2 separate regions of the Homo sapiens genome follow, and region 1 is linked to region 2. The links come from fine-mapping of genetic effects on plasma protein levels. A gene starts in region 2. The other region holds a variant in brackets. All regions are shown on one strand. Distances are from middle to middle. Region 1 overlaps SUN5 (Sad1 and UNC84 domain containing 5). Region 2 holds the start of BPIFB2 (BPI fold containing family B member 2).

What was found. PIP is the posterior inclusion probability: the model's chance that the variant is causal. Protein levels are from antibody-based Olink assays in UK Biobank. Linkage for the fine-mapping came from a reference panel and not from the study's own genotypes, which makes the PIPs less certain.
Region 1: its variant is fine-mapped to the plasma level of the BPIFB2 protein (UK Biobank, PIP above 0.99).

The regions. Positions count from the first base shown.
Region 1 is chr20:32,988,612-32,999,873 of GRCh38, forward strand. It overlaps SUN5 (Sad1 and UNC84 domain containing 5), which reads right to left. Exons shown (of 13, transcript NM_080675.4): 6 at 9,027-9,076; 7 at 7,713-7,747; 8 at 7,008-7,116; 9 at 1,009-1,087. Among named protein-coding and RNA genes, the nearest start is that of SUN5, 10 kb to the right of the region's middle. The variant G/T (reference allele first, on the strand shown) is at 6,192.
Region 2 is chr20:33,003,010-33,014,271 of GRCh38, forward strand. BPIFB2 (BPI fold containing family B member 2) reads left to right here and starts at 4,695. Exons shown (of 16, transcript NM_025227.3): 1 at 4,695-4,751; 2 at 5,532-5,674; 3 at 8,015-8,108; 4 at 9,794-9,898; 5 at 10,801-10,947. The coding sequence starts at 5,566. SUN5 (Sad1 and UNC84 domain containing 5) reads right to left here and starts at 1,424. Exons shown (of 13, transcript NM_080675.4): 1 at 1,255-1,424. The coding sequence starts at 1,331. RefSeq lists enhancers at 4,080-5,075, 5,076-6,070, 10,949-11,262.

The sequences.
Region 1 (11,262 bases), 14 kb before region 2:
AGAGTCTGGCTCTGTTGCCCAGGCTGGAGTGCAGTGGCGCGATCCTGGCTCACCGCAACCTCCGTCCCCCAGGTTCAAACGATTCTCCTGCCTCAGCCTCCCGAGTAGCTGGGATTATAGGTGCCCACAACCACGCCCAGCTAACTTTTGTATTTTTAGTAGAGATGGGGTTTTACCATGTTGGCCAGGCTGGTTTTGAACTTCTGACCTCAGGTGATCCGCCTTCCTCGGCCTCCCAAAGTGCTGGGATTATAGGTGTGAGCCACCAAGCCCAGCCCTGAAGCACTGATTCTTTTTTTTATTATTATTATTTTACTTTTTTTATTTTTTGTGAGAAGCAGTCTCTCTCTGTCGCCCAGGCTGGAGTGCTGTGGCGCGATCTAGGCTCACTGCAAGCTCTGCCTCCCGGGTTTACCCCATTCTCCTACCTCAGCCTCCCGAGTAGCTGGGACTACAGGCGCCCACCACCACGCTCAGCTAATTTTTTGTATTTTTAGTAGAGACGGGGTTTCACCGTGTTAGCCAGGATGGTCTCGATCTCCTGACCTCGTGATCTGCCCGCCTTGGCCTCCCAAAGTGCTGGGATTACAGGCGTGAGCCACCACACCTGGCCGAAGCACTGATTCTTGACTGCGGGTTGGAGATGGCTCTGTCTTGCTGACCTGTGTGCCCAGCATCGGGTTTGGAGAAGAGTGGTGGGTGGGGGTGGTGGAGAGGTAAAGCCAAGAACAGCCTAAGCACATAGTAGGGTCTTTATAGATCTTCTATAATGTTGAGGGCCTGTGGATTCCCGTGTTCCCTCCCACCCCACCCCACCCCTACCCCCATACCCCACCCCGTCCCAGAACCCCTTGAGAGAAAACAAAATTGTAGCAAGAAAACCAGCTTGGAACAGAGGATGAACTTCCCAGCGGCAGAGGGAGTACCACACCAGAACTGAAACCCACCCTGTGTACAGCTTCCCAGGACACTTGAGGCAGTCAGATGGTGGGGAAGGGGGTCACCTACCTATAGACTTCAGGGCAAAGTCTGGCTTTTCGATGTAATCTCCGTGTATCATCTTCATTATTTTCTGGGCCATTTTTTGCTGAAAAGGCAGAAAACACAAGTTGTGCCCTGGTGTGTTGTCACGGACTGTGATCCCCACGTGTCCACGGGAGGTAACAGGGGGCTGCAGGACGCTGTCCTCTCCCTAACAGCCCACCCCTGCCTGTGGAAGCCTGTGGCTCTGTGAAAGCCCAGGTGACACAAAGCCATCCTGACCCCACCCTGGGTTCACTGGGTGCTTTCAAGTCCACTGTGACCAGATGTCATATGGAGGTCCCGGAGTCTCAGTGAGGTTCAGGCAGGGGCTCTGACGTCAGGCCAACTTTTACTGTTGTGGGGCCTTGGGCAACTTACTGCCCCTCTGAGTCTCGATATTCTCACCTGTAAGACGGGGACAATAATCGTGTCTACCTCCCACTGTGGATCTGTAAAGCCCCTACTATGTGCCAGGGCTATCCTCGGCTTCACATATGCTCACCCTATCCCCTCCCAGCACCCCTAAGAAGTATGCACTATTATCATCCTTGTATTAAAGATGAGAATACTGAGGCACAAAGGTGTAGCTTGTTCAAGATCACCCAGCTGGTATGAGGCAGAGCGATCACTGTGGTTCCAGAGTTCAGGCCCTTAACCGCTCCACTCTGCTGCCAGATGCGGATGGCAAAGCACTTAGCACAGTAGGTGCACAATAAATACCAGCTGTTCTTTTTATTAGACTCTTCACAGTGGTGGAAGATTCTGTTTTCCAAAAATGGCTGCAACAAGGTCTCCCATTCCAGGCTCTTCTTTCAGTGTGACCTCCCACTGAGAGTTGGGGTCTAAGCTCCCTTCCCACCAGTCTGGGCTAATGACTTGGCAGAAGTGATGCTGTGTGACATCTAGGGCTAAGTCCTAAAAAATGATACAGCACTGCCTGGTTCTCTGGGGACAGCCACTCCTGGAGGCCAGCTGCCATGTTGAGAGGAAGCCCAGGCCACACGGAGAGGCCACAGATGGGTGCTTTGATCAACAGCCGTAACTGAGTCCCAGTTGATAGCCAGCATCAATCTCCAGTCACGTGAGTGAATCCAGATGATTCCAGCCCCAGATGTAGAGTCACCTCCAGCCTTCAAGTCTTCCCAGCTGAGGCCCCAGATACCATGGAACACAGACAAGCCATCTCCACTGTGTCCTGTCTGAATTCCTAACCCACAGAATCTCTGAGCACAAGTGGTTGTTTCACACCCCTAAGTTTTGGGATGGTTTGCTATGTGGCAATGGTAACTAGAACAATAGCCAGGGTGTTACAAGGCAGTGATTATGATTCTGTCTTGTTGATGTGCAAACTGGAGGCTCAGAGAGGTTGATGACCTGCCTGAGGTTACACAGCTCCAAAAGGCAAAAAAATCCCCAACTCCTCCCCTCGTTTACTGGGGACAATAATCTCACCTATTACTTTTCAAAACTGGGTCGCCAACCCTAAGGAATTTCCCTGATGGCCCCCACCCTTTCTCTGCCCCAAGGCTGAGTGCAGTCTTCTTCTCTGGGATCCACAGGTGCTGGGACTGGCTTGAGGGCAAGGACGAGCTCTAGTTGATCCCCGATCCTGGATCCCCAGCACGCAGTAGGCACTTAATGATTGCACATTGATGAGTGCATGCCTTTGGATTCTGCCTTTGTTTAAATGCAACACACATTTAGGGAGCACTCACCATAGGACAGACATTAGTCTAAGTTTACATGAATTACCATGTTTAATCCTTACAACTCATCTTCTAGATGAAGAAACTGAGGCACAAAGACGGTAAGTAAATTGACCAGAGTCACACAGCTTATAGGTGGTGGGGATGAAATTCAAAGCCTAGCAGCCTGACTCTAGAGCCAGTCCTTATAATCACTATACCTTACTGCCTTTGTAAGTCATAGCGGGGCTTCCCTCCCCACTGCAGAGGAAACACCTGCCAAGAGCCTCACTTGACAGTGAGTGACTGACACGGTCTCTCCTCCTGGGTCTGTCTGAACAGAGCTTAGAGGGGAGATTCAGGGGCACTGGAGACCTAGGACTTTGGGACAATAAAAGATAAAGATGAGTTTTAGCAAATTTTGCTGAATCTTGCACAATGGAATTTATCTTTGTGAACTCTTTTAAAAATTCAACTTCTAGGTAAAGTTGATGGATCGAAGACATCACGTAATTTTAGTTTCTCCCAACACTCCATTACAGCTTCAGTAAAGGGATTTGAAAAGACCCAAACCCATATGAACAGGAAGCACAGGAGAGGAGAAAACCAGGCTGCTGCGTATGGTTGTGCACGTTGCGCACAGCAGAAAGGTTCCCAGTTGAGGGGCCCTGTGTGGGTGCTGAAACCCAGCTCTTCCCCTGTTCTTTGATTTGGAGGAAGGTGCATTTTGCGAATTCATCTGCCCAGCACAGATAGTTTTTTCCAGTCTGCAAAAAGGCACAATGTGTCCCAGCAGTGGCCCTGGAGACAGCAGCAATATTCTGGAAGTTGTCCTACACCTTGTAGGATGTTTAGCAGCATCCTTGGCTACCCACTAGATGCCAGTAGCGTCTCCTCCTCACATTGTAACAACCAAATATATCTCCAGACATTGCTGGATGTTCCCCAGGGGGCAAAATAATCCCCAATTGAGAACCACTGATTTAGCAGAAATGAGAAATCTGAATCCGAAACTGGCCATCCTCAAAAAGCTCAGGATTGGTGGCCTTAGGTGCCCCTGAAATTGGGGTAGAGAATTGGGTGTTAAGACAGTTAAGAGGAATCTGCATATTCCCTGGGGACTCCCTCTCACTCTGAGAAGCTGAGTGGACTTCTCTGTTCCCCAGTAGAAGACTAGAAGTTATTCTCTGGAGAGGGTAAAACAGAAGGGCTCTGTTGGGACAGGTGAAGGTTTCTTAAATAGGATACCCAAAGCACTGCACAAAAAAACATAGATACACTGGACTTAATTAAAATTAGACATTTTTGTTCATCACCATTGAGAGTGAAAAGCCACGCTATAGCCTGGGAGGAGATATTTGCAATATGTACATCCAATAAAATATGTTTACCCAGAACACAGAAGAACTCCGACATATCAATAAGAAATGGCACTCTCCCCCAAAAGGCAACAGACAAAATCCAAATGGCCGCTGGATACAAGAAAAGACACTCCACATTATTAACAACCAGAAATGCAAATTAAAGCCATAGTGAGATACCACTTCTCACCCTGCAGAATAAAGTAAAAAAGACATATGACACCAATTGCTGGTGAGAATGTGGGACAACTGGAATTTGCATATATTTTTCATGGGAGCGTAAATTGAAAAACTATTTGGCAGCATCTAATAACATGAACACACTCATACCTCATGATCCAGCAATTCCACTCCTAGTTATATCTACCGCCAAGATCAATAAGTATATATGTTCACCCAATGATATGAAAAAAATTATAATTGTTCAGGAGCAGACATTCAAACAACAGGAGCTTCAAAAATAAGAATAGAGCAAATGCTGCTGTGGGAAATCACCAATTTAGTCACATGAATAAATAACATTTCTTAGGCCCAAAGGCCAGGAGTTTCCAGATTGACGGATTCCAAAGGGTGGCCAGCCCATAGGCACATCTGTGGAAGCAACAAGGACCAGATGAACTAAAATTCTGCAGAGCAGAAAACCATTCTGAGATGTGCTGGCATTTTTTGTCCGTTTGTTTTAAATCTCTGGGGGTATTTGACGATTCTAGGCATAGGCTAAGGATCTGGGCTTAGGCCAGACAATGGGCTGCTGCTACTGGTGAAAGAGAAGGAAGCAAAGTTCTTAATGGTGACAAAGAGCTAAAGTAACAAAACTGGGGACTTGAGGAGCCTCAAATATGGCCACTTTTCTTCACAAGGTATTAACTGAATTTCAAGACTATAGGAGGCTATAGGCCACTTCAAACATTTCTGAAAAGCAGAATAAAACTTCATATCTTCACAGTGCTTAGGAAACGAAGTCCCTTTGAGGGAGGGCACCGCAAAACACAACAAGCAAGAGATCAAGGCCTTAGAACAGTGATTCTCTCTGGTATATGTCAGAACCACCTGGAAGGCTTGCTGGAACACAGATGATTGGTTTGCATCTTCAGAGCCTCTGATTCAGAAGGTCTGAGTGAGGCCTATTAATTCGAATTGTTAACATTTTCCCAGGTGATACTGATGATGCAGGCACGTGGGCCGTGGGCCGTACTTTGAGATCCATTACCCTAGAAGGGGTGGTGATGAGTCAATACTGTGCTTCAGCTGCACTTCACCTGGGGGCACTAAATCAATCCTGGGCACAATTAGAACCCAGGAATCCAAGTTTGCTCCTGGCGGAGAAGGCTGCCACCAGGCCCAGAGATTTTTGCGTTCATGCAGGGGTGAGAGACACATTTGGAGACTTGTGAGGCCTCAAACATACAGTAAGTCTGCCACTAAGACAGTTGTCAAATTTTTGAAGCTGCATGGGAAGGAGTCTAAAGAGTTAAGCTTAAAACCTCTGGATAAATTTTTTTAAAATTGTGATCCAGGTCTGTCTGAACTAGCTTAGTGCATGTCTAGATAGAAGTGACCAGTCTATTTCATCCTCCTTATAAAGAAAAGGGGAACTTTCTCTAGTGGAATTATAATTATTTGGAACAGCTACAGTTCTTTTGTATACAATGTTGAGAAACCACTAAAAGTTACTAGACTTGAAGAGGCAAGACCATATCATTGATACCCAAGATAAAAAGCAGAAAACAGAGGGAGGCCACAGATGATCCAGACATTGGAGTTAGCAGACAAGGATTTTTAAAATAACTGTTGCTAATGTGTTAATTAAAATAAAGGAAAAGATGGACAACATAGGTGAAATGTTGGGGAATTTCACCACAGAATTAAAGTCTGTGAAAAAAATCAAATGTATATCCTAGAACTAAACAATGCAGTATCTGAAATTAAGAACTAAGGCTGGATGCAGTGGCTCACGTCTGTAATCTTAGCACTTTAGGAGGCTGAGGCAGGTGGATCACTTGAGGTCAGGAGTTCAAGACCAGCCAAGTCGACATGGTGAAACCCTGTCTCCACTAAAAATATAAAAATTAGCTGAGCGTGGTAATGTGCACCTGCAATCCCAGCTACTCAGGTGTAGGAT[G/T]CACTTGAACCCAGGAGGCAGAGGTTGCAGTGAGCTGCCTGGGCGACAGAGGGAGACTCCATTAAAAAAACAAAAAGAACTAAATGCATGGATTTAATAATAAATTGGAGAGACAGAATGATGCAAGATTATTAGTAAACCTGAAGAAAGGTTAATAGGAAAATATCAAAACATAAGCACATAACAGAAAAAGAATGAAAAAACAAACCAGGTAATAGCGTAGGAATCACATAAAGCACTCTAAAGGCTTTCAAAGCATAGGCCTAGCATAGGTGTAATTAGAATCCAAGGAAAGGAGACAGATAATGGAAAGAAGAAATATTTTAAGAGATAAAAGGTAAAAGTTTCCCAAAACTATTGAAAAATATCAACCCACAGATTTAATAAGCTCGGCAAACCACAAACCAGGTTATATGAGGAACATTAGAGACAAAAAGATTTTTCTACAAGCTCCCAGGGATAAAAAATAGATCATACTCAAAGGATCAATAATAAGAGTGCCATTAGACTTCTCATTAGCAACAGTATAAACTATAATAGAGTGGTGGGCTTCCTTCAACATTCTCAGGAGAAACTATTTCATATTTAGAATTCTGTACCCAGCCAAACTATCAACCAAGTACAAGGATAGAAAAAGATGCTTTTAAACATACAAGCACTAAAAATATACTTCTTTCACTGTATTCCTGAAAGTCACTGGGGGATGTGCTCCCTCAAAATGAGAGATAAAACCAAGAAAGAACACTTGAGGTATAGGAAACAGGACATCAAACAAAGAGAAATTAGATGTTTGGGGCAGAATGGCCAGCGTCTCACCTCATCGGACATGGCTTCCATCTCCTGGAGCTTGGCAATGAGCTGGTTCATGCTACCTCGGAGGTCCTGGATTTCCCCACTGTGATGTCGCACCTTCTCCTGGTACAACCTTATCAGGAAGGAGTGATAACAAGAACAGGTTGATTTGTGATGCGTTGTTGTTACCCTCAGATTTTCCCTTTGCTAGTTGGCTCTCAAAGAATGAGTTTCAGATTTTCCTAATCTCTTGGGCCCATCCCTGGACCCATTCATCAGGTTATTATCTCTAAAACATTACTCATTCTCTTCTTTCTGCTTGGAATATCTTTATACCCAGCTCATTCCTTCCAAATATTCCTGAGTATTTTGTCTGCAATTAAGGATGCTGCCATCAGGTGGTGTCTTGGTTAAAATTTCTTCTCAGCTACCATTTGCTGAGCACTGACTATGGGTCAGGAGCTATTCAAGACACTTTGCATCTTCTTTAGCACCCATAATTGCCAAGAGCAAGATGGGTGTTATGCTTCATCTCATAAATGAGGAGTCAAAGGCCCAGAGAGAATAGGTGACTTGCCTAAGGTCAGCCATGTAGAAGGCATGGGAGTTAGGATTTAAACCCAGGTTGATCTGACTGCAGAGCCTATATTTGTAGCCAATACACCCCAGATTCTGGCTATAGCTCTGCTTTTTAGGTAATAATATGGTTACCCAGAAGATTCCTCTTACCTCAAGCTCTGCAGTGGACCATTTATGCTGTCATCCTGGTGGAGTATTGAGAAAGTAAGGGGTCTCCTTCAGATGGCTTAATCTGGCCCCAGGAGAACTTCATCCATCTATTCTCCCACAATTATAAACCCATACATTCATCCACTTTCCTGTTGACTCTTCCACCCGTCTACCCACCTATCATTTCTCCAAACTCTAATTTACTGCCCTTTTTATTCATCCTTCCAGACTTTTATCCATCCATCCACACCTTCATCCATCCACCCTTATACCCACCCACCCTCCCTTATCCATCTGTTCTTCCAACTCCCCAACTTCCCCCATCTATTTACACTCCAATCCATATACCCTAACCCATCTACCCACTCTTTCATTCATCCATCTATCCACCAACCCACCCACCCACTCATCTATCCCATCTGCTCTTGCATCCACCCATCATTTCATCCACCCATTCACCTATTCATGTATTCACCTAGCCTCCTATCTCTTTCCCCTAGTCCTACATCCATCAAATCCAACCTTCCATCTGTCCATCCTCCCATCCATTCTCTCTCCATGCACACTCCCATCTGGCCATCCAGTCATCCAACATGGATAGTGGCAACCCTGTTGCTGGCACCAAACTAAACATTGCTGGGGTGAATAGGACCTGGCTCCTTCCTTCAAGAAGCTGCCAGTACAGTTGGAGAGACAGTCATGACCACAGAAAATTATCGGAGGAAAGAGGAATGTGACAACTTCTGCCTGGGTGTTTCTAGAGGAGGTGATATTTTAGCCGGACCTTGATGGACCTTGATGGATATGAAGGGGTTCATAAGGAGGAAAAGAGGAGAGGGAGGGACAGGCCTTTCAGATTCCCTTTCTGAGGTCCTCTGAGACTTTTTGCAGACCTCATGTAGGGAGTTTCGCTACTTATTTCCTCCTCCTTCCTCCTCAGAAACCTGAAAGCAAATGAGTATCATTGCTGTTAAGCAGAAGGACAAGCTGCCTTAAGTACAGAAATGTGTTCCCTGTTATCACCACCCCACTTTAAGTGGGGCCTTGAGAAAGGAGAGATGGGTCATCTCTGAGAGTCAATACAGGAGAGCCATCTTGGAGGAGGGACTATTGCATCCAATCTTTGAAAGTCACCTCTGGCAGAGAGATGGGTTCTAGGTGGATGGTACGATGAAGGGTGAGATTTGGATCTGGGTCAAGTCAGGAACTGATGAGGGGCCCCATTTGGTGAGAATGAATGGAGCTGTGGAGGTGATATTGACTGGTTAGGGTGAGACCTGTCAGCTGTGGGGCCTGAGGAGGGTGCACACTCACCTGCCAGACTTTCATTTTCGATGGTAAGTGAATAGAAAACATCCAGAATCCTGTGAGGCCATGAGAATAAGAATGAGCCATTTAACATGCAAGATGAAGAGCCTAGGTGCTGGAGTTAGGACATCTGGGTTCAAATCCCAGCTATGCCACTTGCCAGCATTGTGCAACACTGGGGGAATTACTTAATGCTCTATGCCTCTGTTCCCTCCTCTGTAAAATAAGAATAACAATAATATCCACTTCATGATCAGATGATATCAAATGTGTAATACATGGCACATAAACCAAGTCATCTGTGGCTCCCCCTTCCCTGTTCCAACTCTACTGGGGATAACTGGCAAAGAGAAGAAGGCGCTCTGCATTTTATGATCTCCATGCTGGCTGAAAAGCCACCATTCAAGCCATTATTTAAAAGTCTTGGCCAGGTGTGGTGGCTCACGCCCATAATCCCAGCACTTTGGAAGGCTGAGGCAGGCAGATCACTTAAGCCCAGGAGTTCAAGACCAGTCTGGCCAATGTGGTGAAACCCCATCTCTACAAAAAAAAAAAAAAAAAAAAAAAATACAAAAATTAGCCCGGTGTGGTGCACGTCTATAGTCCCAGCTACCCGGAGGCCGAAGTGGGAGGATCACTTGTGCCAGGAAGTCGAGGCTGCAGTGAGCTGTGATCCACTGCACTCCAGCCTGGGCAACAGAGTTGAGACCCTGTCTAAAAAACAAACAGCTTTTACTGAGGCAGCAGAATCGCTTGAACCCGGGAGGCAGAGGTTGCAGTGAGCCGAGATCATGCTGCTGCATTCCAGCCTGGGTGACAGAGACTCTGTCTCAAAAAACCCCAAAAACCAAAAAACAAAAACAGCCTTTAAAATTTATTTATTCTTCTTGATAAAACCCTCAACGAACTAGGAATAGAAGGGAAACTCCTCACCATGATAAAGACCATCCATGAAGAGCTCACAGCTCACATCCTATTTAATGGTGAAAGACTGGGCGCTTTTCCCCTAAGATCAGGGATGAGACAGGGATGCTTCCTCTTGCTAGTTCTATTTAACATGGTACTGGAGGTTCTAGCCAGGCCAGTTAGTCAAGAAAAAGAAGTAGGCCAGGCGTGGTGTCTCACACCTGTAATCCTAGCACTTTGGGAGGCTGAGATACGATGGTTTGAGGCTGGGAGTTCTAGACCAAACCGGGCAACACAACAAGACTCAATCTCTCCAAAAAAAAAAAAATTTAAACAAAAATTAAAAAATTAGCTGGGGGTGATGGTGCACGCTTATAGTCCTAGCTACTCAGGAGGCTGATGTGGGAGGATCACTTGAACTCAGGAGTTTGAGGCTGCAGTGAGCTATGATTGCACCACTGCACTCCAGCCTAAGTGACAGAGACAGACCCTGTCTTAAAAAACAAAAAAGAAGTAAAGGTCGTCCAGATTATCATGCAGAAAAGAGTTAAACTACCACTATTTGCAAATGACATGATCTTGCATTAGAATTCTAAGGGATCCAAGGTTAGGTGTCTTGCCTTGTGTTATAACTAAAAATCGGGTTCAGCAAGGTTGCAGGATACAAGATCAAGGTACAAAAAGTCAGCTGTATTTCTATATACTAGCAATAGATAACCTGAAAACAAAATTAAGAAACCCATTTCTAATAGCGTCACAATAAAGGTGTTATTTAGGCTGGGCACGATGGCTCACGTCTGTAATCCCAGCACTTTGGGAGGCCAAGGTGGGTGGATCATGAGGTCAGGAGTTCAAGACCAGCCTGGCCAAGATGATGAAACCCCATCCCTACTAAAAATACAAAAATTAGCAGGGTGTGGTGGCGCGCGCCTGTAGTCCCAGCTACTCGGGAGACTGAGGCAGAGAATTGCTTGAACCCGGGAGGCGGAGGTTGCAGTGAGCCGAGGTTGCGCCACTGCACTCCAGCTTGGCAACAGAGTGAGACTCTGTCTCAACAACAACAAAGGTGTTATTTATCGAAGTCCTAGTTGTTGGATTTTAAAGTGGGACGGTTCTCTAGGATTCACTGTCTATTTTCCCATGGGGAGCTGATTCTCCCTCCCTACCCCACCCCCAGCCTCCACTCCAAAGCCAGTATATGTCAGTGGAGGGAGGAGATTCCTTTGCTTGGGAAAGCTAAGCTGTGTTGTGCGAGGTGGGGGTGGTGGCTGGAAAGAAGCCATGGAAACCCAGAAAGCGGAAGTAACAATGTTCATAACACGGTTTGGGGAGAGCT
Region 2 (11,262 bases):
TGAGGTACAGAGAAGGTTTCCCAACACCACCAGCCTGTGATTCAGGGACAGACCCAGGTCTGGCTGACCCCAAATCCAGGTATCCATCAAGGAAAAGACCCAGGTTGCTGTGGCAGTCACAGGCGGTTGTCGCCATGTCCCCGAGGTTGGCAGAAGCTTGGTTTTGTTCCTTTGTCTGCTCCTACCCAATGTGATTTTAGGCCATTTTGATTGGTCGAAGCCTGCTGTCGTGCTCCCATTCCCTGTGCTGTGATTGGTTCAAGGGTGAGGAAGTCTGCAGGGGTGAGGTAGGGTGAGGTAGGGGGGTGGTTACGAGGTAAGGGACTTGGGGGAAAAGTTAGGTTTAGGATTAGCTAAATGAGACCCACAGAAAACGATGCTTATTCTCCTTCCCCTAGACGCCACATTTCTGCGTGACACCTGAAACTGTGGTGGCCATCTTGTGACCATGAGAGGGGGCTAAAAGAGCAGAATGATGACAGGAACCTGGGTCTTGGGTGGCAGAACTGAGGAATTAACACACTCCGGAGCCCCCTGCACCTTGGGACCTCTTGATATGTGAGATTTAAAATTTTCCCTTATTTCTTAAGTCAAAGGTCTTTAAACATTTTTGTTTATACCACCTCAGAGTATTTATATTGGTTTATTAATAAATTATATATACACCCAATTGTACTAATACATTGTTTACCCTTCCCAAATGTACAGATTTATGGTAACATTCCTGAATAATATAAATTAAAAGAGGATGAAAGACATACATTCTAGCCTGGTTATTTCTTTTCTCACCCTTGGGGATTGTTTGGTATACTCTCTTGGGATATACACCCAGATTTGGGTGCCCAGAGATAGGCATCATTTTAAGTTGGAATTTCTGTCACCTGCATTCAGAGGCTTTCTGACAGATAAAGATGGCGAAATACTTGTTTCCTTCTTTCATACCAGTCTCCTGCACTAGACCGTGAGCTCCATGAGGGAACGGAGCACATCAGACTGGTGCCACACCGTGTTCCCCGTCCTCTGTGCATTTCCCGGCACACAGTAGATGCTCAATAAATGCGTGCTGGAAGGATGGCTGCTTCACCACTTCCTGGCTGGGAGACTTTGGGAATACCACTGCCAAACCTCTCTGGTCTTGGTGGCTGTCTCTGTACAGTACAGTTGACAATGCCACTCATCTCCAAGGACAGGGTGGAGGGGCAGCATTTTGTAAACTGTAAAGGGCTGGGCAAAGGGAGGGGCTGCCATCCTCACCTCCGGGGTCTGGGATTGTGGGCCACATCTTCGAGTAGGGCGCCTGGGTCCCCAGGGCTCCTTGAGGACCGTGGCATCGATTTCCTTCTTTAGGATTGGGGATGGAGATGGGAACTCTGGGAGCTGGTGAGGAGGAAGGGGCTGATGCCTCTGAATGTCCCCTGAAAAGTGCCAAGTGGAATCTGCCAGGATCAGTGGAGCAGTTGGCATTGTGACCTCACAGAGCAGGTGGGTGGAGGGGCAGGGGATGGGGCTAGTCTCCAGCTTGGCCCTAGAACCTCCCCCAGAGGAAGCCATTGTGACCCACTTTCCTTTCTTAAGATGGGGAAATTGAGGCATCAAGACAGGAAGGGCCATGCTGGGGTCTCAGAAGCTGGACAGGGGCGAGAGCTGAAGCTCCAGTAACCCAACCATGCTTTTCCTTGTTTCCTAGATCCCTTCCTGCCCCAAGCTTCCCAGGCTTTTCACCTTCTTAGGTTGCACCTGAATGCATTTTGTAATGCTGAGCTTCTCACTGGTGGACATTGTGCATAACACAAAATAACATTGCATGTGTTGTTGCTTTAATAAAGTTCTACTTTTTGTTGGGCCCGGTGGTTGATGCCTGTAATCCTAGTACTTTGAGAGGCAGAAGCGGGTGGATTGCCTGAGCTCAGGAGTTTGAGACCTGTCTGGGCAACATGGCAAAACCCCTTCTCTACTAAAAATACAAAAAATTGGCTGGGTGTGGTGGTGTGTGCCTGTAATCCCAGCTACTCGGGAGGCCGAGGCTTGAGAATTGCTTGACTCGGGAGGCGGCAGAGGTTGCCGTGAGCAGAAATCGCGCCATTGCACCCAGCCTGGGCAACAGAGTGAGACTCTATGTCCAAAAATAAAGTTCTACTTTTTTACTGGGGAAAATAAAAGCATAACCGAGTGGAAATGTCGGGCTAAGTTTTTTCTGTTCACCCTGCCTGTAGGGAGCTTGACTATTTGGATAGCAAAGCTAAAATGAATTCACTTTTGCCCCCTGGTGGCAGTTGCTTAAAATTGCAGGCTAATTACCAATGGGAAGTGGTACGATGGTCCCTCAAAGAGGCCCACACACTAAAACCTGAACATGTAAATATGTTAAGTCACAAGGCAAAAGGGAGTTAAAACTAGAAGAGCAATTTAAGTTGCTAATCAGTCGATCTTGAGATGGGAAGAATACCCTAGATTACCCATGTGGGTGCAATGTAATGACAAGGGTCCTTAAAAATGGAAGAGGGAGGCAGGGAGATGGCAGCACAAGAAGCACTCAGCCCAACATGCTGGCTTTGAAGATGGAGGAAGGGACCAGGAGCCAAGGAATAAGGGCAGCTTCTAGAAGCTGGAAAAGGCAGGTGGACAATTCCTCTCCTACAGCCTCCAGCAAGGAACACAGCCCTGCCAATACTTCCTTGATTTTAGCCCAGGGAGACCCATCTGGGACTTCAGACCTCCAGAATGGTAACATGATAAATTGTGTCTTAAGTCACTAAGTTTGTGATAATACATTATTGCAGCAACAGGACACCAATGCAAAACCCCTGAGAATATTCAGTGAAGGGGAAACTCTGAAATGCCACCACTACAATTGTTACAAGGGTCTTTCAAATGTATACTCATTCATTTATTCATTCAACAAATATTTATGCACCTAGTATGGTCCAGGTGCTGGAAACAGGGCTGAGCAGAACCAGCTCCCATCCCTGCGGATGCAGGCAAAGTGGCTGGCAGAACATTCTGCATATAGCAGGTGCTCACCAAACGGTGCTTGCCATTGCTGTCAGGAGCCGGTTGAGATCTGGGATGGGCTGGTGAGAATCTCCCTCTTTTATGTCTACTGGCTGTCACCCAAATGGCTCTTGTGCTGGAAATATTTAAGAAAAGGAAGTGTCCAGGCCAACAGCAAACACCAAGAGTGGGTTTGGTCAATATTTGCGCCTCTGTCCACTGAGTCTGCTGTTTGCATCAGCTATGGTGAGGGCGCAGGAGGGGCCGGTCTTGGGCATTGGTGGACAGACCAAGGCCAGGAGCAGGGTGTCAGGGAGCTCACAGCAGGCTCTTCTCATTCCTCTTTGCGTCTAGAATAGGGGCAAGGGAGCACTGGTTGGGAGGCAGGGCTGGTTCAAGTGAGCTCCAGCTGCTCAGGGGAGGGCTTGATGGTGTCTGTGGTCAGCTTTGTAGACACTGGTGGAGGCCTAGCACAGGGTGGGCCTGGGAGCTGGGCCTGATATTTGGGCTGGTGTGGGGTCAGTGGGAGTCAAAGAGTGCCCTGGAGTTGGGGAAAGGCCCCAAGTCATCCTGTGCCAATGAAGAAAAATGGAAAGGCCATCGCCTGCTGTGCACACATATATGCACACACACAAGAACATATATACATGTACCTCCCCATCCCAGGAAACAGTCCACTTGCATACACACATGCACCTAACACCACACACTCACAGACCCACAAACACTCAGTAGGCCAAGCCCACACATGCATACATGTACACAAAACTCCCCACCTCTGTGGTCCTGTTGGATTGTGTGAATAGACACACAACACCATAAACCAAGATGCCAACGTGCCCATTTCATGTCCACACTCACACATAAGAGCACACATTTTCCCCGTACATGTGACTATGCACACACACTCACATGCATGTATCAACACAACCCTCATCCACACATGTGCATATGCAAATTCCTTCATGCGCACACACAGTTCCTTGGGTCCCATCCAGCCAAGGCGGAGGCTGACGTTTGTAATGTGGAAAGAGACCGTGGACTAATCCATTGTGAGTGGAATGTGCATTTGGAGAGAGGCTGGGATGTTAAGCTGTGGGGACAGGTCACGCACACTTTCTCTTCTGTTCCCTTCTGAGTTAGGGCTCAGTTTGTGACTGGGATCAGGGCTCAGCATGTGATCAGGGTCAGAGCTCAGTAACTGGGGTCAGGACTCAGTGTGTGAATATGTGACAGGGTCAGGGCTCAGTCAATGACTGAGGATGGTGCTCAGGTAGCCTTCTGCCCCTCCTAAAAGGGTCATGTTTCCGAGAGAGCTTGGAGGTACCAGGCTTGAGGGGTCATTGCAGCCATCCCCTTGCCTATGGGAGGGGGGATGGGGTCCTCATGGGCCCCATCCTCCCAGGCCTTGGCTGGGCATGATAAGATACCCTCCTAGAAGCAGCTTTCCTTCCAGAGATCTCCTGGCCCTCACTAAGGCCATAGCTGCCTAGCCCCAGGGGCTTGTAGTGGTTGGGAGCTGGGCCTGGCTACTGGCTACGTGGCAGCCCCAGCGCACATGTGGGATGAGACACTTTGGCAAAGGCCATGTTTGCAGGGAAAACACTTGCAACCACAAGCAAACTCGCCGCTCCCTGGGTCCCTTCCCAGTGGACTCTGCACATTGGGAGCCTTATAAAGTAGCCTCTGCATCTGCCTGCCTCGGGCAGAGGAGGGCTACCCTGGGGCTGAGAGTTCACCTGTCTCAGGAACCACCTGAGGTAGGCATGGGGCTGGGCTGGTACACCACTTCCAAGGAGGCTTGGCTTCTCTATCTGTTCAGTGGGGATGCTACCTCCAGCCACCCTCTGCAGAAGGGTCCTTCCACCCCTGGCCTTGCTGTAGGACCTGGGCAAGTGCCGCCATCCTGGGTCTCAGCAGACCCACCTGAGCCGCAGTCCCTCACTCCTGCCTGGCTCCCTCTCCCTGAGTCAGACACAGATCTGCCTATTTGGCCAGACTGAGTCAGGAGAGGATGGGGGCCATGTGAGAGGCCTACTCTTAGGCCATTTACCACCTGGCCAGGAGGGGATGAGGACAGGAGCCACCCTGGGTCCTCCCCTGGCTGAATTTGGTGGACAGCTGGACACCAAGCTGGCTGTCACACGGGGCTGGACTCCGGCATCAGGTGATACAGTCCTGGGCATCTTCTTGGGACAGGAAACTACCCTCAGTCTCCCCGTTTGGGAGTCTCACCATCCTTCTATGCCATGGCTTGGGTCCTGCACCTGGTCCCAGTCCACTGTGTGGCCCTAGGCAAGACCATTTCTTCTCTGGGCATTGCGGGTCATTTCCAGAAGGGACTCCCCCATGATTCCTGATGAAGCAAGCAAGGCAAGGTGATGGTTCCCAATGCAGAGATGCAAAAACTGATGTCTGTGGGCCTGGGGCAGGGCTGGGATCACCAGTCAGGGCTTGTTCCCTCCAGGCTGGAGTGGGGTTCGGGTGGCTCAGGGGTGGGCTGTTTTGGCTGAGCTCCCTGATGCTCATTTCTACCCCAGCCCACAGATCCTGTGGGCAGCGGCCAGGGCAGCCATGGCTTGGGCAAGTAGGCTGGGCCTGCTGCTGGCACTGCTGCTGCCCGTGGTCGGTGCCTCCACGCCAGGCACCGTGGTCCGACTCAACAAGGCAGCATTGAGCTACGGTAAGCGGTGTGTTACCCAGTGAGTGTCTGTGAGCCTGTACATGCGTGTGCAATCCTAAGTGTGTGTGCGTAGCTGTGAACTCAAAAGGCCCATGAGGACCCAGATTTTAATTGGAAGTTGTGTCCCTGGCACCCAGACAGTGCCTGACACATGGCGCTGCTCAACAAATGCTTATTACATAAATGCGTGAGGGGGGAGTACGTCATGTGGCCAGTGTGCAAGTGTGCACATGTGACTTGCTCACATGCTTTGGTGATGTGGGCATAGGTCGGTTTGAGGGGCTATTTTTACCTGTGTGTGTCTACTTATGAGTTTGAAATTTCATAGAGCTGTGCCCACGTGTGTACTTAAGTGTCGGGGAGGGTGCAAGCCCATGATGCTGCCTGGATGTGTGTGCACAGGTACGGCTGTTCACCCTGGGTGTACACGTTTGCGTATGTGGTGTGTGCACGCACGTGTGTTCTTGGGAGAGGTCTGTCTAGCACCGTGATGCAAGGAGTGTTCTAAAGTTATATCCCTTCTGAGCTCAGCGTGAGAGAACCATCCGCTCTCTGGGTCCCACTTGTGCGAGGGCTCTGTCTTACGGCTGTGCTGCTAGATCCTTCCAAGTCTTGCCCCAATCCCCTAAGGAGGGCACAATGAAGAAACTTAGCCCCAGGGAGGGACAGACATTGCCAAGGTCCAGGACGCCAGCACAAACATGTTTATTCACCTCGAGTTGCCTCCCGGTGAGAATTTGGTTTCCCACCAAAGCCAGGAGATCAGAAGCGGTTTCCCCCAAGGCCAAACTCAGATTACAGTGTGAGAAAGTCAGGTCAGACAGTAGATGGGACCTTCAGTGGCCCAGGACATGAAGCAGTGGCTCAGGGAAGTAGCAGGTTTCCCCCACCCCTGGGTAAACACAGCCTTCCGGGACCTCATATCCGGGCTGATGGGCAGGCAATGAAAGGGGTCAGTGATCCGTGCCAGAGCATGACATGGAGCCATTCATGGATGCCTGCAGGTAGGGCCATGAGGCCCGCGCCCTCCGCCGCCTTCCTGCCCTCTGCCCATCCTGTGCAAGCCTCCTTTGTCCCCAGGGAGCCCTCCCCAGCTTGCCTGCCTGTGTTTGTTTTTGGCAGAAATCTGGCTGGAGGCCCACGCTGGACGCATTGCTCCCCAGGCTGGGCTGAGTGGCTACTTCCAGTGTCCTCCCCACCCCATCCTGCAAGCCCCAGAGTTCAAACCCTGCGTCAAGGGAGCACTGTAGATGGAGTCTGAGGTCTGGGTGTGAGTTCCAGCTCAGCTGCAGATGGTTAGGTGGGAGAGGGGTGCTGGGAAACATGGAAACCACCGCCTTTATGCTTCTTGTTGGGGGAGACTAAGAACCAGAGAGGTGCAGGGACTCCTCAAGTTCCCACAGTGAGTCTGAGCAGTGGGCAGGCCTCTTGACTCCTCATTTGAAGCTCCCTTCCAGCACCATCACCTCTTATTCTAATTCAACTCCTGCTTAATTAGCACCTCTCTGGGGCTCAGCAGCACAGGTGAGTGAGGATGCCCAGAGGCTCGGGAGCCAGGTCCCTCGGTCCAAAGCCAGCTTTCCCTGGCCAGGTGCCCTCACCTCTCTGTAAACTGGGCACGATAACAGGAAAAGTAAAGCACTCAGAACAGGGCCTGGCACTACAGGATCACAACATAAACGATTGCCGCTATTATTACAAAAATAAATAGCAATGGTAGAAGCTAGCATTTGCTGTGCACTGAGTGTTTACAATGATCCTATGTGACAGATACCATTAGAATCATTGCAGATGTATAGATGGGGAAACTGAGGCACAGAGTAGCCACACAGGCAGTGAGTAGCAGTGAGCACTGCGGTTTGAAACCAGGATCTGAGAGACTCTTGAGTCCTCAGCCCCCAGGTGAGGCTGTCCCCTCCCCTCCCAAGGGACGTCCCCTCTGCTCCCATGGGCGCCTCCACAGCAGGCCAGGGATGACTGGGAGATGCCCCTTCTGCTTGGGAACTTAGGGAAGGCTCCCAGAGGAGATGGGATCTGGTTGGAACCTTGCAAGAGGGCAAAGGATTTTGTTGCTTTTGAAGGACGGGGTAAATCAGCAGGATTTTGAGAGGCAGAGTGGGAGAAGGAGGTCATGCCCAGGTGGAGAGAGCCTGATGCGAGTGGTGCACCCAAGGTGGGCTCATGGGGAGTCAGCTGCCCTCCCCATATGCTTGGAGTAAGCCTACCCCTTCCAGTCTGAGTACCCTCTGCCCAAGGTGCAGGGTAGATGGCAGGCAGTGTGTTCTTGCTACTTGGTGGTTCCCGAGGGCACCCTGACCTCACTCTACCCTGGCCCCACAGTGTCTGAAATTGGGAAAGCCCCTCTCCAGCGGGCCCTGCAGGTCACTGTCCCTCATTTCCTGGACTGGAGTGGAGAGGCGCTTCAGCCCACCAGGTGAGTGCTCCCCTCCTCCAGAGAAGGTGCTCCTGCCACCAAGTGGAGTGTTCCTGCTTGCCAGGTGGGTGCTTCAGTCCACCGGGCATGTGCTCCTGCCTGCTGGGCAGATGCTCCTATCCACGGGGCAAAGTGTTCCAGTCCACCAGATGAGCACTCTCCACTGAAGGTGAGTGCTCCCTCCCACAAGGTGAGTGGTCACAAGATGATTTAAGAGAGGGACCCAAGATGGAGAAGCCGGGCCTGGTGCCTCTGAATTAGTGAATTTCTGCCCTCAAGGGCTAAGAGTGGCTCCTGGGTCCCCAGGGCTGGCAGGACCCTCTGTTTCTAGAAACTGGATACTGAATTTAGACACGAATCTGAGCCTCCTTTACCTCCACCCTACTCTGCTTAATGCAGAAACTAAAGGCATAGGGATGTGGAGCATCCCAAACTTAGACACCCCTGGGCTGGTCAACAGTCACCTTCCACATAGGAACTAGGGCTCACTACTGTCAGATCTTTGGGTTTCCAAGAGAAGATATACATCTAGAATCCATCAAATTTGGAATGATAGCAACTAATGAAAAAACATTTAAAGCCCAGGCGCAGTGGTCCACGCCTGTAATCCCAGCACTTTGGGAGGCCGAGGTGGGTGGATCACCTGAGATCAGGAGTTCAAGACCAGCCTGGCTAACATGGTGAAACCCCATCTCAACTAAAAATACAAAAATTAGCTGGGAGTGGTGGCGTGTGCCTGTAATCCCAGCTACTCAGGAGGCTGAGGTGGGAGAATCTCTTGAACCTGGGAGGCAGAGGTTGCAGTGAGCCAAGATTGTGCCATTGTACTCCAGCCTGGACGACAAGAATGAAACTCTGTCTCAAAACAAAAAAACAAAAACAAAAACAAACAAACAAACAAAAAATATTTAAGACTTTAAGACCCTGGAACAATGGGTGGATGGTGAAAAAAACATCTGGCTTGGGGGCCACCAGTTTGAGATCCCTTAGGAAGAGCTGAAATGCAGTTCATGGCATGGTTAATAAAGGTGGAGAACTGGACATAAATACCCAGCGACCAAAGATGCCTAAATCACTTGTGGTCTGGCCACACAATGGACACCATGGGGCTGTTTGAAAACAGTGCCCGGGGCTCTTGTTTGTAGACACAGGATTGAACCCAGGATTGTTGAGTGCACAGACGCAGCTTCTGTACGGGGACCTGAACTGTACAGTGCAGAAATGACTTTCATTTAGGAAATAAAATAAATCACAGGTTAGCTGGAGAGTGCTTGGAGCTTTGAAGTGGGGGAGCTTCTGTTGCTGTAGGCTACGAGCTGCAGACATTGACTAGGATACCAGAGAGAGGATTTCTGCCTTCTGTGGTTCCTGAAGTTTTTCTTTTCCAACCTTCCCAACTTTCCAGGCAGGGGTCGGAAACTGTCAAAAACCTGAGCAATCATCTCACCCAAGTCCTGCCCGAAGCGGGGGCCCCTCTGCATGTTCTCCCTACCAGCTGGTGTCCAACCTTGGTTTGCATGCCCCGTGGTGATGGAGAACTCACCATCTTCCCCTTACCTCATGGTTCCAATTGTCAGAAAGCCCTTCTTTATAACATCGTGTGGGTATGGCTCAGAGCACCCACCCCAGAGTTGATCCCATGGTTTAATGGGGGCCACTCTGTCACCTTGATTACTACCCTGCAGGATCCGGATTCTGAATGTCCATGTGCCCCGCCTCCACCTGAAATTCATTGCTGGTTTCGGAGTGCGCCTGCTGGCAGCAGCTAATTTTACTTTCAAGGTCTTTCGGTGAGCGGATCTCCTTGTTAGGGGGTGAGAAGGGTTTTGGGGATGCTCCGAGGGATACAGTGAGGGGACGGGGGGTAGCAACTCCTCCAGGGCCCTCATCCAGGCCTCTTGACTCTCTGTCCAGTTGCTCTCTCTCCCCTCACGCTTGGAGGGGAGCAAGATAGTGAGAACATTTCTGAGAACCCTGCTCAACAGCTCTGCAACTGGGCAGAGTCACTTGGCTTGTTTACCCCCTCAGCTTCCTCATCTGTAAAATGGGATGAACTTCTGTAAAGTGCCAATGACGGTTTGGTGAATGGGTTCATTGCTGTGATTATAATGACTGTCCTCTCTTTCCCAGGGCAAGGCACATGAGAGACGCTCAATAAGCATAACGATCAGAGTTATTTTTGTGTGCCTGGCATCTTGTATGTTACTGCATTTAATTTTCACACCATGAGCTGTGCAGTCAGAGGGGTCTCTTATCTAGCTTCTCTACCCTGACACTATGATTTTATGATTGCTTCCTGTGGGCCAGGCTCTGTGCTGGGTGTTTTCACATGATTATCTCACAGGAAACTCAGCACAGCCCTGCGAAATAGGTCCCACCAACCTTATGTCCATTTTACAGAAGAGGAAACTGAGGCTCAGCATGGTAAATGACTGGCCCAGGGTCTCACAGTGAGAGGCTCCGGACAGCCAGTGCTCACACCCACTGCTGCAACGTCTATGACCCCAAGTGGAGTCTTGAGGCTGGGGGCTGTGGGCCTGCCCCAGGTAGGGCCATCTCACTCTGGGAGTGGGGGGCCTGCCTGGGCCAAGTGGAGGGCAGGCAGGGGCTGGGGAATTTGTAAGATCTATCATCAGTCATGGTGGGCTCTGCTGGGCGGTGCTGCTCGGGCTCAGGACTGGCATCCCTACAGCGCCCCAGAGCCCCTGGAGCTGACGCTGCCTGTGGAACTGCTGGCTGACACCCGCGTGACCCAGAGCTCCATCAGGACCCCTGTGGTCAGCATCTCTGCCTGCTCTTTATTCTCGGGCCACGCCAACGAGTTTGATGGCAGTAACAGGTGGGTGCCTGGTGAGGGCAGGGTCACAGGAATCCCAGATGCCAAAGCTGTGCTGCTGTTTCCTGAGCTGCCCACTCAGGACTTTAACCAATGGCCACAAGGGCCTCAGGGGCCCCCATTATTGTGCTTGTTTTATGTCGGAGGACACTGAGGCTCAGAGAGGGGGAGAGGCATGCCTGAGGTCACACAGCAAGTGAGCGGCCAGAGCCTGGGACCTTTCCATCCCCTGCACCACTTGACAATACACACTAGCTATTAGCACACTCTTTGGGGAGGGATTTTGGGTGGATCAGACTGGCTGTGAGGACCTCGGAG